Linked DNA regions of Homo sapiens. The protein of the gene in region 1 binds, or shares a complex with, the protein of each later gene. Each region holds a gene or a part of one and is shown in the gene's direction. Other genes may lie near its edges.

Region 1 (7,458 bases):
CAGTGGTGTGATCGTGGCTCACTGCAGCCTCGACCTCCTGGACTCAAGCAATCCTCCTACCTCAGTCTCCTAAGCAGCTGGGACCACCGGTGTGTGACACCATGCCTGGCTAATTTGTATACTTTTTGCAGAGTTGGTGTTTCGCTGTGTTGCCCAGGCTGGTCTCGAACTCCTGGGCTCAAGTAATCTGTCTGCACACCTCAGCCTCCTGAAGTGCTGGGATTATAGGTGTGAGCGACCACAACTGGTTGTGAGATTTTTTAATTAGCCAATTTTTTTTTTTTTTTTTGAGACAGAGTCTTGCTCTGTCACCCAGACTGGAGTGCAGGGCCTCAATCTCGGCTCACTGTAACCTCTGCCTCCTGAGTTCAAGCAATTCTCCTGCCTCGGCCTCTCGAGTAGCTGAGACTACAGGCGCGCCCCACCATGCCTGGCTAATTTTTTTATTTTTTTGTTTAGTACAGACAGGGTTTCACCATGTTGACCAGGCTGGTCTTGAACTCCTGACCTCAGGTAATCCGCCCACCTTGGCCTCCCAAAGTGCTGGGATTACAAGTGTGAGCCACTGCGCCCGGCCCTAACCAACTTTAAACTAGCACTGTTCAGTGGAAAAAGCGAACTATAAGTTAAGATTTTTCAGCATCCACATTAAGAAAAAAAAATGAGATCAACTTCATTAATGTTTTCTTTGGTCCAGTATATCCAAAATATTATCTTTCAGCATGTAATTCATGTGAAAGATTGGGCTGGGTACGGTGGCTCACGCCTGTACTCCTAGTACTTTGGGAGGCGGAGGTGGGAGGATCGCTTGAGCTTAGTAGTTAAAGACCAAAGGGAGACCTTGTCTCTACAAGAAAAAAAAATTAAGCTAAGCATGGTGGTGCGTACCTGTTGTCTCAACTACTCAGGAGGCTGAAGCAGGAGGATTGCTTAGGCCTCGGATATTGAGGCTGCAGTGAGGTATGATTGAGCCACTGCACTCCAACCTGGGCGACAGAGTGAGAGATCCTGTCTCAAAAGGAAAAAAAAAATATTGAGCTATAATGCTTTTTGCGGGAGGATCACTAAGATTTGAAACCTGGTGAGTCTTTCATGCTTAGAGCCCATCTGAACTACTGCACTTCAAACGCTGAGCAGTTAGTGTGGCTCTGGGTTCCCTTCGGGCCGTGGTTCCTGACCATGTGCGTGGGCAGCAGCAGGCTTGTTGGGGGTGGCAGTGCCACCTCTGTCCTCCCTTCCCTGTTTGTTTATTCCCAGTTAGGTCCTCCATGGGCCTTTTTCTTGTTCCATTGCTGTCAGACAGAGCCCTTGGACCCCTCTGCTAACTGTGGGGTGCCCTGCATTTCCCAGGCCTTTCTCCTATCGCCTGTCTCTTCTGGTGACTTGGTGCTGCCTATACTGATTTCTGTCTGTAAGGGAAATCAGTCGGCTTGGTCGGCTTAGTCCTAGGTTGATTCTCTTTTATTTTTATTTTATTTTATTTTATATATTTTTATCTTGTTTTATTTTACTACTTTTTAAAATTTATTTTTTATTTTTTTATTATTTATTTATTTATTTTTTTGGAGACAGAGTCTTGCTCTGTCACCCAGGCTGGAGTGCAGTGGCACGATCTTGGCTCACTGCAAGCTCCGCCTCCCGGGTTCACTCCATTCTCCTGCCTCAGCCTCCCAAGTAGCTGGGACTACAGGCGCCTGCCACCATGCCCGGCTAATTTTTTGTATTTTTTTTTTTAGTAGAGACGGGGTTTCACAGTGTTAGCCAGGATGGTCTCAATCTCCTGACCTTGTGATCCACCTGCCTCAGCCTCCCAAAGTGTTGGGATTATGGGCGTGAGCCACCGTGCCTGGCCTATTTTTATTTTTATTTATTTTATTTTATTTTATTTTTGAGACAGAATCTTGCTCTGTTGCCCAGGCTGGAGTGCAGTGGTGCAATCTCGGCTCACTGCAAGCTCCGCCTCCCGGGTTCACTCCGTTCTCCTGCCTCAGCCTCCCGAGTGGCTGGGACTACAGGCGCCCACCACCACGCCCAGCTATGTTTTTTGTATTTTTAGTAGAGATGGGGTTTCACCATGTTAGCCAGGATGGTCTCGATCTCCTGACCTCATGATCCACCCGCCTCGGCCTCCCAAAGTGCTGGGATTACGGGCGTGAGCCACTGAGACCGGCTATTTTATTTTATTATTTTTTTTAATTTTTAAAATTTATTTTTTAAAATTTTTTTTATTTATTTTATTTTAATTTTATATTTTGTTTTATTTTATTTTAGTTTGTTTTATTTTTTTTTTTTTGAGACGTAGTGTCCTTCTGTTGCCCAGGCTGGAGTGCAGTGGTGTGATCTCAGCTCACTGCAACCTCAGTCTCCCAGGTTCAAGTGATTCTCCTGCCTCAACCTCCCGAGTAGCTGGGATTACAGGCACCCACCACCACGCCCGACTAATTTTTGTATTTTTAGTAGAGATGGGGTTTCACCATGTTGGCCAGGCTGTTCTCGAACTCCTGGCCTCAGGTAGTCCACCCACCTTGGGCTCCCAATTTGCTGCAATTACAGGTGTGAGCCACCGTGCCCAGCCCGATTCTCTTTTAAAAAGCTAAATTAGGCCGGGTGCGGTGGCTCACGCCTGTAATCCCAGCACTTTGGGAGGCAGAGGTGGGTGGATCACGAGGTCAGGAGTTCGAGACCAGCCTGACCAACATGGTAAAAACCCATCTCTACTAAAAATACAAAAATTAACCAGACCTGGTGGTGTGCGCCTGTAGTCCCAGCTACTCAGGAGGCTGAGGCAGGAGAATCACTTGAACCCGGGAGGTGGAGGTTGCAGTTAGCCAAGATTGCGCCACTGTACTAGGCGACAGAGTGAGACTCAGTCGCAAAAAAAAAAGCTGGGCGCAGTGACTCACGCCTGTAATCCCAGCACTTTGGGAGGCCGAGGCGGGTGGATCATGAGGTCAGGAGATCGAGACCATCCTGGCTAACATGGTGAAACCGCATCTACTAAAAATACAAAAAATTAGCTGGGCGTGGTGGTGGGTGCCTGTAGTCCCAGCTGCTCGGGAGGCCGAGGCAGGAGAATGGTGTGAACCTGGGAGGTGGAGCTTGCAGTGAGCTGAGATCACGCCACTGCACTCCAGCCTGGGTAACAGAGCACGACTCGGTTTCAAAAAAAAAAAAAAAAAGTAAAAAAAAAAAAAAACTGGGTCAGGTGTGTGGCTCATGCCTGCAATCCTAGCACTTTGGGAGGCCGAGGTGGGTGGATCACCTGAGCTCAGAAGTTCAAGACCAGCCCGGGCAACATGGTGAAACCCCGTCTCTACTACAATACAAAAAATTAGCCAGTCATGGCAGCCGGCGCCTGTAATCCCAACTACTTGGGAAGCTGAGACAGGAGAATAGCTTGAATCCGGGAGGTGGAGGTTGCAGTGAACCAAGATCTTGCCATTGCACTCCAGCCTGGGTGACAGCGCAAGACTCCGTCTCAAAAAAAAAAAAAAAAAAAATTGATTGGGTGTAGGGACCAGCCCCACAGGGTTGATGGGTTTTTCTCCCCGTGTGCGGAGATGAGAGATTGTAGAAGTAAAGACACAAGGCAAAGAAATGAAAAGACAGCTGGGCCCGGGGGACCATTACCACCAAGACGCGGAGACTGGTAGTGGCCCCGAATGTCAGGCTGCGCTGATATTTATTGGATACAAGACAAAGAGGCAGGGTAAAGAGTGTGAGCCATCTCCAATGATAGGTAAGGTCACGTGGTTCACGTGTCCGCTTGACAGGGGGCCCTTCCCTGCCTGGCAGCCTAGGCAGAGAGAGAGAGAGAGGAGAGAGAGAAACAGCTTACGCCGTTATTTCTGCGTATCAGAGACTTTTAGTACTTTCACTAATTGACTACTGCTATCTAGAAGGCAGAGCCAGGTGTACAGGATGGAACATGAAGGCGGACAAGGAGCGTGACCACTGAAGCACAGCATCACAGGGAGACGGTTAGGCCTCTGGATAACTGCGGGCAGGTCTGACTGATGTCAGGCCCTCCACAAGAGGTGGAGGAGCAGAGTTTTCTCTAAACTCCCCCGGGGAAAGGGAGACTCCCTTTCCCTGTCTGCTAAGTAGCGGGTGTTGTTCCTTCACATTTTTCGCTACCGCTAGACCCTGGTCCGCCTGGCAACGGGCGTCTTCCCAGATGCTGGCGTCACCGCTAGACCAAGGAGCCCTCTGGTGGCCCTGTCCAGGCATAACAGAAGGCTCGCACTCTTGTCTTCTGGTCACACCTCACTATGTCCCCTCAGCTCCTATCTCTGTATGGCCTGGTTTTTCCTAGATTATGATTGTAGAGCGAGGATTGTTATAATATTGGAATAAAGAGTAATTGCTACAAGCTAATGACTAATATTCAAATATAATCATATCTATGATCTATATCTAATATAACTATTCTTGCATATTTTGTTATACTGGAACAGCTCGTGCCCTTGGTCTCTTGCCTTGGCACCTGGGTGGCTTGCTGCCCACAGTTGGGTGTCGTGGCATGCAATTGTAGTCCCAGCTACTTGGGAGGCTGAGGCAGGAGGATCACTTGAGCCAGGAGGTCAAGGCTGCAGTGAGCCACAGTTGCAGCAGTGCACTCGAGCCTGGGCAACAGAGCAAGGCCTTGTCTCAAAAAAAGTAATAAAAAAAATAAAAATAACAGAACCTGCTACCATCAGACTGGGGGCCAATATTTAATGAGAGGAGGGAATGTTTTCTGCCAAAAAGTAGGAAGGACAGATGTCCAGAGAGAGGGCCGCGCTGTCGCCGGGCGTGACGTCCCTGTGTCTGGCGGAGCCCAGGACGGTCTGGGGGCCTGACAGTGCCTCTTGCTGCAGGTGGTGCAGCGGCTGACGCGGATGGTGGGGAAGAACGTGAAGCTGTACGACATGGTGCTGCAGTTTCTGCGCACGCTCTTCCTGCGCACGCGGAATGTGCACTACTGCACGCTGCGGGCTGAGCTGCTCATGTCCCTGCACGACCTGGACGTGGGTGAAATCTGCACCGTGGACCCGTGCCACAAGGTAGCACTGCCCTCCCTCCTTCCCCCCTACCCTCCTGAAGGTAGTGCTGCCCTCCCTCCCTCCTTCCCTCCCACTCCCCGGCCCTCCCTCCTTCCCCCACTGCCCTCCTGAAGGTAGCGCTGCCCTCCCTCCCTCCCTCCTTCTCCCTTCTCCCCCGCTCCCCGGCCCTCCCTCCTCCCCCTCCGCCCTCCTGAAGGTAGCGCTGCCCTCCCTCCCTCCTTCCCCCCAACTCCCCGGCCCTCTCTCCTTCCCCCTCTGCCCCTCCTGAAGGTAGCATTGCCCTCCCTCCTTCCCCCTGGCCCTCCTGGCTCCTCTCCTCTCCGTGGGTTTGGCTTGGCCCGGGACCACCTGGGCGCCCTTCTCTCCCATGCCTGTTTCCTGGGCTCTGGTCTTTCTGTCCTGTGTGCTGGCCCTTTGGCTTCTCTCCAGACCCTGATGGGGGAAGGAGGCTAGTCCCCTGCATCTGAGCCAGAGACCTGGCCGTTCCCGGGGACTCCCTTGCCCCGTCCAGCCCTTTCTGTGTTCCCGAGGGCTGTATGACCTACGGGCTGGACCTTGACCATTGCCCCAGCTTCCTCCCATCTTTCCACCTGGCCTGTGGCCCTCCCCTTCCCCAGAACCCTGGGTGCTGCTTGTTGGCCAGGTACCAAGTGCTCTAGGAACGGGGTTTCCCTTCATACGGACCCTCCAGCCCTGAGACCATCTTTCCGGGACTTGGGAGTCACCCTCCGAGGCTTCCATTGCTTGGAGTGCTGCAGTGGCCACCCCCACACTCAGGGTGCCATGAAGGAGTCCGTTTTTAGAAAGAAACATCATCACTTTCTCCACCACTGTCCTGACCCTGCTGCTTTGGCCGGGAGGTGTGGGGAACACTGCACCGTCAGGATGACTGGTGCCTGCTGCCGCCCCCCGCAGCAGCTATGATTGAACAAGAGGCCAGGGCCTGGAGCTGTGTTTGGGGCCTGGGTCTCTGGTCATCCTGGGAGGTTTGGGCTGGTCCCGACCGTGCTTCCTCCTTGCAGTTCACCTGGTGCCTGGACGCCTGCATCCGAGAGCGGTTCGTGGACAGCAAGAGGGCGCGGGAGCTGCAGGGGTTTCTCGATGGCGTCAAGAAGGGCCAGGAGCAGGTGCTGGGGTGAGGGTCGGCTCCACGAGGCCTCTGCCCCTCAGGGCCCTGCGTGCATCCGGTCTGCGCTTGCTGTGTTTTGCCGTGGGTAGCAGGCGTTTATTCCCGGATATTGCTTTTTCTTTTGTTTTTTTCGAGACAGAGTCTCGTTCTGTAGCCCAGGATGGAGTGCAGTGGTGCAATCTCTGCTCACTGCAACCTCCGCCTCCTAGGCTTAAGCCATTCTCCTGCCTCAGCCTCCCAAGTAGCTGGGATTACAGGCACGCGCCACTGCGCTCAGGTAATTTTTGTATTTTTTAGTAGAGACAGGGTTTCACCATGTTGGCCAGGCTTGTCTTGAACTCCTGACCTCAGGTGATCCACCCGCCTCAGCCTTCCAAAGTGCTGGGATTACAGGCATGCGCCACCGTGCCTGGCCTCCTGGATGTTTCAATAGAGCTATGCCGGGCACTGCTGGCCCACAGCTTAGGGACATGGTTGTCGGGATGTGTGTGGGTAGCAAAGTCTCCCTCCTCAACTCTGCATTCTGGAGCCAGGCCCAGGGGCTGGGGTCTGGTGTCTGCAGTGGCGTGGGGTCAGCCTCTGAGCTGAGGGGCATCCATTGGCATTTGCTTTCCAGCATCCTCTGGCTGGTGTATAGACACAGTGCTGCCTGGCCCTGCCTTTGCCACTTTTTTTCTTCCTTTTTTTTTTTTTTTTTTTTTTTCTGAGACAGGGTCTCTGTCACCCAGGCTTTAGTGCAGTGGTACAGTCTCCCTCAACCTCCTGGGCATTGATCCTGCTGTCTCCGCCTCCCAAAGTGCTGGGATTACAGGCACACACCAGTGCGCCTGGCCGATTTTTGTTATCTTTAGTAGAGATGGGATTTCACCACCTCGCCCGGGCTAGTCTCAAACAAACAATCCACCGGCCTCAGCATCCCAAAGTGCTGGGATGACAGGCGTGAGCCACCACACCCAGCCTTTTTTTTGTTTGTTTTTTTAACTTTTTAATTTGAAAAATCTTTGAATAGGTTAAGGACAAATTGCAAACCTTAAGCTTTTTTTTTTTTTTTTTTTGAGACAGAGTCTCGCTCTCTTGCCCAGGCTGGAGTGCAGTGACGCGATCCTGGCTCACTGCAAGCTCTGCCTCCCGGGTTCAAGTGATTCTCCTGCCTCAGCCTCCCGAGTAGCTGGGACCACAGGCGACCACCACCACGCCCGGCTAATTTTTTGTATTTTTGGTAGAGACAGGGTTTCACTTTGTTAGCCAGGCTGGTCTCAGTCTCCTGACCTGGTGATCCATCCG
Region 2 (7,405 bases), on another chromosome or scaffold:
GCTTAAACATAATTTCCCTGGAAAGGACTTCTTGACCTCTTTCTGAGGTCGCTGCATTTTTTAAAAAAAATTGTTAGAGATAGCTTCTCTTTTCTCCTTTTTTGCCATTAGCACCAGATGAATTGTGTCTCTGATTCAGCTATATCCCAGCACCTGACACCTAGTAGGCACTCAGTAAGTATTTCCTCAATGGATTAAGTGAAACCAACTTCTAATTTTCATAAAAATTCTCCACCAGAATTCTTCTTTTTCTTCTTTTTTTTTGGTGGGGGTCAGGGGACAGAGTCTTGCTCTGTCACCCAGGCTGGAGTACAGTGGTGTGATCTCACTTCACTGCAACCTCTGCCTCCCAAGTTCAAGCGATTCTCCTGCCTCAGCCTCCCAAGTAGCTGGGACTACAGGCACCCGCCACCACACCTGGCTAATTTTTGTATTTTTAGAAGAGACGGGGTTTCACCATGTTGGCCAGGCTGGTCTCAAACTCCTGACCTCAAGTGATCTGCCTGTGTTGGCCTCCCAAAGTGCTGGGATTATAGGTATGAGCCACCGCACCCGGCCCAGAATTCTTCTTAAACAGGAAAATGACTTTAGAACTTAAATGACTTTAGGAGTATTTAAGCAATGCAAGCTAATCTGGACAATCTAGACAAGGCTTTGGAAAAAACAACAGATCCACAATATCTCAGGAGGCAAGACCTATAGACCCAACTACTTTTTTTTTTTTTTTTTTTTTTGAGACAGAGTTTCGCTCTGTCACCCAGGCTGGAGTGCAGTGGCATGATCTCGGCTCACTGCAAGCTCCACCTCCCAGGTTCACACTATTCTCCTGCCTCAGCCTCCTGAGTAGCTGGGACTACAGGCGCCTGCCACCATGCCCGGCTAATTTTTTTGTATTTTTAGTAGAGACGGGGTTTCACCGTGTTAGCCAGGATGGTCTCGATCTCCTGACCTCGTGATCCACCCGCCTCGGCCTCCCAAAGTGCTGGGATTACGGGCCTGAGCCACTGCGCCCGGCTGACCCAATTACTTTTAAATCATTGTGACTTATAGGCTGAATGTAATGGTTTCATTACGGGTTGTTAATCCATTTAACAATAAATGGATTAACCAACCTGTTGGTTGAAGGAGAAGTGAGCTGAATAATCCCCAATTCCGTAGGCACAATTAGTTATACATACATTAATTGGTCCGCTTTCAATTCTGGCACTATTTTTTAAAAAATCTAAGAGGAGAGGTAGGAGGAGTTTAACAGCCATCTATTCTTTCCAACATTTTGAGAAAGCAAGTGAAAATGAACCCTGAAACAAGCCAACAGCAGGGGCACTCATTAACTTAATACACTTTAATCTTGTGAATAGAAGCTGGAGCTGGATCCTTTGAATCGGAGCTGCAGACTTCCACCTCCAACCACCTGCAGGACATCTCCGCATGGGTGTTCTGTTGGCACCTCTAACTCAGCACAACCCAATGAACTCATTATCATCCCATGGAGAAACCTGCCCTCCTCCTGGGTTCCCTGTCTCAGCCATGGGCCATCCCCAGGCACACAAGCTGGGGGTCACAGCAGCATCTTCCCTGCCCCTGTTCCTGGCCCCCATCTCCCACCCCCAAGGCTGTTGTATCCTCTGGACTTGACCCCAACTTCACAGCAGTTAGCCACAGCTCCTTCTCAGCAACCCCCTCCATTAATGCTCACGGAAGCTTCTTAATTTACATTCTCACCTTCTCACTTCCTTCTGTAAGGCCCCCTCAGCTAGGAGAAATGCCTTTGAAAATTCAGATATGTCCTTTCACCCGCTCAGAGCAAGAAAAAAAAAATCCAAACGTTTCATCTTCCTCATAATGATGCATACTTGCTGAGCACCTACCATGTGCAAGCTCTCTGCTCAGTGCTTGGCATACCTCATTACATTCAATCCTTAGAGATGGCCCTCAGTTAATACAGACCTAACTCCCTCCCAAGATCTGGCCCTCCCTGCCTTGCCCACCTCATCTAGATTTCTCCTTGGCCTGCCAGGTGCCGCTCTCAGTGGCCTTTCTGTTCCAAGTACGCATGCCTGGCCTTTGCCCTGGCAGTTCTGCTCTCTGGAAATGCTCTTGCCTGGGTCTTAGCTAGCTTGCCCCTTTCATGACATGACTCAGTTCAAATGTAAGCTGCTCAGCAGCCATCTCTGATCTCCCCAAGAAGATTCTATTATCACAGAATACTAGCACTGATCACCTTCTGTCTTTATCTTATTTGTTCCCCCCACCCCCTCCCCCCATTCAGCTCCTTCAGTAGAATGTAGGCTCTACCCGGACAAGGATCAGGTCCAACTTGTTCACCGAGCTCCAGGGAGCAGCGCAGTGCTGGGCACTTAGGGAACACTCAATAAACATTTGTTGAATAAATGAAGACATATTCCCTGATAAGTTCTCCAAAAGTAGTCACTATTATCAATCTTCTGGAGCTCTTTTCTCTAATACTCTTTCCTTACTGACATGGGCATTACCTTTCTTTTTTTTCTTTATAGACAGGGTCTCACTTTGTCACACAGGCTGAAATGCAATGGCACGACCATAGCAAACTGTAACCTCAAACTCCTGGGCTGAAGCAATCCTCCTGCCTCAGCCTCCCGAGCAGCTAGGACTACAGGCGTGCATCACCATACCTGGCTGGGGGCGGGGGAAGGGGGGGGGCGGTGTCTCGCTATGTTGCCCAGGTTGGTCTCAAACTCTTGCCTCAAGCAATCCTCCCACCTTGGCCTCCCAAAGTGCTGGGATTACAGGTGTGAGCCGCGGCGCTCAGCCACGGGCGTTACCTTTCAAAGCATCCAGATTTTATGGCGTTAATCTCCCTGTTTAAAATTTTCTGTGATTTGGACACAAAGATGGGAACAACAGACATGGGGTATTCCAAAAGGCAGAAGGTGTGGAGGGGGGTAAAGGCTGAAAAAGTTGCCGAAAGGATTAGAAGCATCACGCAATATACCAATGTAACAAACCTGCACACGCACCGAATCTAAAATTAAAACAAAACAAAAACACAACAACCAAACAAAAACCTTTCCGTGATCATCAGGAGGCTGTCATATTCTCACCCCCTACTTCACGCTGGGAATCGAGCTGCGGGCTTTACAACAGCGTCAGCTGCTCCCTTTGGCAACGACCAGAGAGGTCCTTTCTCCAGAGATTTTTGTCAGCTCTGGGCACTTTTGCTTTGTGGGCCTATCTTCCACTTTATAAAAAATTAAAAATGCTACTTTCCACTGCATTCAGTACTTTTTCTTCTCTTTTCTTTTTTCTTTTCTTTTCTTTCTTTCTTCTTTCTTTCTTTTTCTTTTTCTTTTTTTTTTTTTTTTTGACACAGTTTCACTCTGTTGCCTAGGCTGGAGTGCGGTGGTGTGATCTTGGCTCACTGCAACCTCCACCTCCTGGGTTCAAGCGGTTCTCGTGACTCAGCCTCTTGAGTAGCTGAGACTACAGGCGCCCGCCACCATGCCCAGCTAATTTTTGTGTTATTAGTAGAGAAGGGGTTTTACCATGTTGACCAGGCTGGTCTCGAACTCCTGACCTCAGGTGATCCGCCCGCCTCGGCCTCCCAAAGTGTTGGGATTACAGGCGTGAGCCACCGTGCCCTGCCCTTTTTATGTATGTATTTATTTATTTGAGATAGGGTCTCGCTCTGTCGCTCAGGCTGGAGTGCAATGGTGCGATCTTGGCTCACTGCAACCTCCGCCTCCCGGGTTCAAGCGATTCTCCTGCCTCAGTCACCCGAGTACCTGGGATTACAGGCGCATGCCACCACGCCCGGCTAATTTTTGTATTTTGAGCAGAGACGGGGTTTCACCATGTTGGCCAGACTGGCCTCGAACTCCTGACCTCAAGTGATCCGTCAGCCTCGGTCTCCCAAAGTGCTGGGATTACAGGCGTGAGCCCCCACGCCCGGTCGCGTTTAGTACTTTTTACCAAAACTAAAAGAAATTAAAACACTTTCGTGGGTCCTGGACACTTCCGGAAGGATTTGTTTCCAGCTGCCAGATGAGGAAACTGGGGCTCGCAGAGCCGGCGCCGCAGGGGAGGGGCTGTGCACGAATCCAGTGGGAAACCTCTCTCCGGAGCTAAGCCCCTGGTCCACCCGGGCATCGCTCCGGGATCGACTGGGGGCGTTCCTTCCGCCGGTCCCCTTTGTTCCCAGTGCCGAGCCCGCGGCCCTGCCCTTCCTCCAGGCCCCGCCCCTTCTTCCAGGCCCCGCCTCCCGCCCGGGCCGAGGCGCGCGGCCGCGCGTGCGCCCGCCCGCCCGTCCCCGCCTCGCGCATGCGCCGCGCTCGCTCGCGGGAGGGCATGGCGGGGGCCGTGCCGGGCGCCATCATGGACGAGGACTACTACGGGAGCGCGGCCGAGTGGGGCGACGAGGCTGACGGCGGCCAGGTGAGGCGGGGCACTGGGCGCACCCTAGAGAGAATCGTTCGTCTCCGCCGCCGGCGGGCCGGCCCCACTCCCGGAGAGGCCGCGCGGCGCGAGGCTGCGGGCGTGCGGGGGGTGTGCGCGCGCACGGCCCGCGCGGTCACCGTGTGGTTCAAGCACAGCCCGCCCCGCCCCCGCCCGCCCGGGGTCCCGCGGCGCGGCCGCCGGGGTCCCCGCCTCCTCGCCTGCAGGACCTTGGGGTGGGGGTGAGGCGCCGGAGGCTCTGGCGCGGGGCGGCCCGAGGCCCCCAGTACCCCCTCGCTCCGGCCAGGCCCGGCGCCGGCCCTGCGACCCCCGCGGCGGGCGGGACACCAACGCTAAGGTGGAGGGTTGGGTCCGGAGCTCACAGACTTTTAAACAAAAATAAAGTGGAAAAACTTCACAGCAGCATCATGAGGAAAAAGTAGAACTTAGGGCATTCCTACATGTGCTTTACTGTTTTATAAACTGTACTCTTCAGCACCTTGGGCTGATTTCATCTGTTTTTGGGCAAACTGATGGAAAGGATTTTCGGGCCTTGACCTTCCAGGGTTTGGGGTGGAAGCCCAGGAGGGATCACTGTTCCACCCTGAGGACAGGGACTGCAGAGCCAGGGCAGGTAGCTCTAGTCTGGACAGTGTGTCCCCACCTTACTCTAAAGACCCAACTGAGGCGCATGATTGAAATGTAGCTTCTCACGTCCCTCCCCTGGAGACGGCCCAACAGTTGGTCTGGACGGGAGCCTGGGAACTTGCATTTTTTTTTTTTTTTTTTTTTTTTTTTTTTTTTGTGGTGGAGTTTCGCTCTTGTTGCCCAGGCTGGAGTGTAATGGCGCCATCGCGGCTCACTGCAACGTCTGCCTCTCGGATTCAAGCGATTCTCCTGCCTCAGCCTCCCGAATAGCTGGGATTACAGGCACCCACCACCATGCCCAGCTAATTTTTAAAATTTTGAGTAGAGAGGGGGTTTCACCTTGTTGGCCAGGCTGGTCTCAAACTCTTGACCTCAGGTGATCCACCCACCTCTGCCTCCCAAAGTACTGGGATTACAGGCGTGAGCCACTGCTCGTGGCCCAGGAACTTGCATTTTTAACAACAATCAAGATTGGGGATGTCTGGTGCATTTTGAAGTGGTATTATAAGGGAATAAAGGATGAAGTGGGGCTTACGTTGATAAACATGGGTGGTGGTGTGATGGCGGCTTCGGAGCCATGGTCTAAAATGCCAAGGCGGGCGATGTGTTTCTGGAACTGAAAGAAGCCCTGTGATGTTAGCTGCCTGGTGGAAGCAGTGGCAGGAGGTCAGTAGGGAGCAGGTTCTGAAGATCCTTGGAGAGCTGCTGAATGGTATGGCTTGTTCAGGAGTTTGGGGCAGGGAGTGACACGAGTAGATTTGCATGTTGGATCATTTCACAGTGTTGGAGGCTTAGGGTGGAGTGGATAGAGTCAGACTTAGCTAACTGAGAGCTTGGGCCATGTGTGTCATGCGTTATCCCCTTCCACACACAGGATTTTGAGTTGGGTGTTACCCTACTTATCTGGTAAGTGTAGAAAATGAGACGAAAAGACTTACTGACCTGCCCAAGGTCATGAAACTAATAAAGGAAGGAGAGGGGACCCAAACCCACATCCTTTGCCTCCGTTGCCACTTCGTCAAATTGCTGACTACCAAAGTGGTCCAGATGAGAAGGTGTGAATTAGCTTAGTGGTAGGTTGGTGTTTGGGGCATCTAGTATATCACCTTGAGCCTTTTTTTCTTTTTTTTTTTTTTTGAGACAGAGTCTCGCTTAGCTGCTCAGGCTGGAGTGCAGTGGCTTGATCTCAGCTCGCTGCAACTGCCATCTCCTGGGTTCAAGCAATTCTCCCGTCTCAGCCTCCTGAGTAGCTGGGATTACAGGCATCCGCCATCATGTCCGGCTAATTTTTGTATTTTAGTAGAGACAGTGTTTCACCACGTTGGCCAGGCTAGTCTTGAACTCCTGACCTCAGGTGATCCGCCTGCCCCGGCCTCCCAAAATGCTAGGATTACAGGCGTGAGCCACCGCACCCGGCCTTTTTTTTTTTTTTTTTTCTTTGAGACGGAGTCTCACTCTGTCACCCAGGCTGGAGTGCAGTGGTGCCATCTTGGCTCACTGCAACCTCCACCTCCTGGGTTCAAGTGATTCTCCAAGTAGCTGGAATTACAGGCCGGTGCCACCACACCCGGCTAATTTTTGTATTTTTAGTAGAGATGTGGTTTCACCATGTTGGCCAGGCTGGTCTCGAACTCCTGGCCTCAAGTAATCTGCCCGCCTCCGCCTCTCAAAGTGCTGAGATTACAGGTGTGAGCTACCGTGCCCGGCCTCACCTTGAGGCTTTGAGTCATAAAGTGTTAGAACTGGGGCATATAAGGGCCATCTAATCAGTACCTTCACTTTATAGACCAAGCACGTGAGTTATTTGCCCAAGTTTGTGCAGTCAGACCTAGACCCCACTGATGGGAGATTGGGGAGTCTCATGTTTGGGGAATTTTAATCATGATCCTAATTTGGCCCACTGACACCAGTGGGCTCTCATGGATGAGGGGGGTGGACCAGACGTTCATTTCATGTTTATTCTGTGACTCTGCTTGGAAGAGGTACAGAAAGTTAGGAAAGGTGTTAGGAGGGTGGCAAGAACTGGATTTTAAAAGATAGTTGGTGACCCAAATTCTGTTCGCCTGATGCCATGTTACATAGTGGGAGGTAGGAAGATGTGTAAGGAGGCCACCGTGATGTTCAGTCTGGATGGTGGAAACTAAGAGCTGCAGACATGCAAATAGATGAGTCCTGCTACAGATTGCAAATGGGGAGTGGTGAGAGGTCAGAACGGACAGGGGAAGTGGGAAGGGCACGCTCTTGCTAGAGCTGGGGCGTTTTTTCCTGAAGGAGATGGGAATCTTTAAGCAGGAGAGAGACGTCAGTTTTGTGGCTTACAAAGATCACTGTGGCCACGGTGTGAAAG

The links. The genes of interacting proteins can lie anywhere in the genome.
Region 2: the proteins of NELFB (region 1) and NELFCD are in contact, whole or in part, in a crystal structure (PDB 8JJ6), measured with the Homo sapiens proteins. Residues at the interface, in NP_056271.3 of Homo sapiens: Met49, Leu53, Leu56, Val58, Ala59, Asn60, Gly61, Leu64, Lys65, Leu68, Thr69, Leu75, Ile78, Glu79, Phe81, Gln82, Glu84, Asn85, Gly86, Val87, Leu88, Leu89, Ser91, Leu92, Ser94, Ala95, Leu96, Pro97, Phe98, Leu99; in XP_047296144.1 of Homo sapiens: Arg63, Ile66, Met67, Glu68, Pro69, Ile71, Phe72, Leu75, Ile89, Gln90, Leu92, Ser93, Tyr96, Thr97, Ala98, Val99, Ala100, Gln101, Thr102, Val103, Asn104, Leu105, Leu106, Trp109, Leu110, Gln112, Thr113, Gly114, Val115, Gln121.

Annotation. Positions count from the first base shown.
Region 1 is NC_000009.12:137,258,178-137,265,635, forward strand, and holds part of NELFB (negative elongation factor B), read left to right. Parts: intron 1-4,859; coding exon 4,860-5,045; intron 5,046-6,067; coding exon 6,068-6,180; intron 6,181-7,458. UniProt on the Homo sapiens protein: Essential component of the NELF complex, a complex that negatively regulates the elongation of transcription by RNA polymerase II.
Region 2 is NC_000020.11:58,976,960-58,984,364, forward strand, and holds the start of NELFCD (negative elongation factor C/D), read left to right. Parts: upstream 1-4,350; coding exon 4,351-4,410; intron 4,411-7,405. UniProt on the Homo sapiens protein: Essential component of the NELF complex, a complex that negatively regulates the elongation of transcription by RNA polymerase II.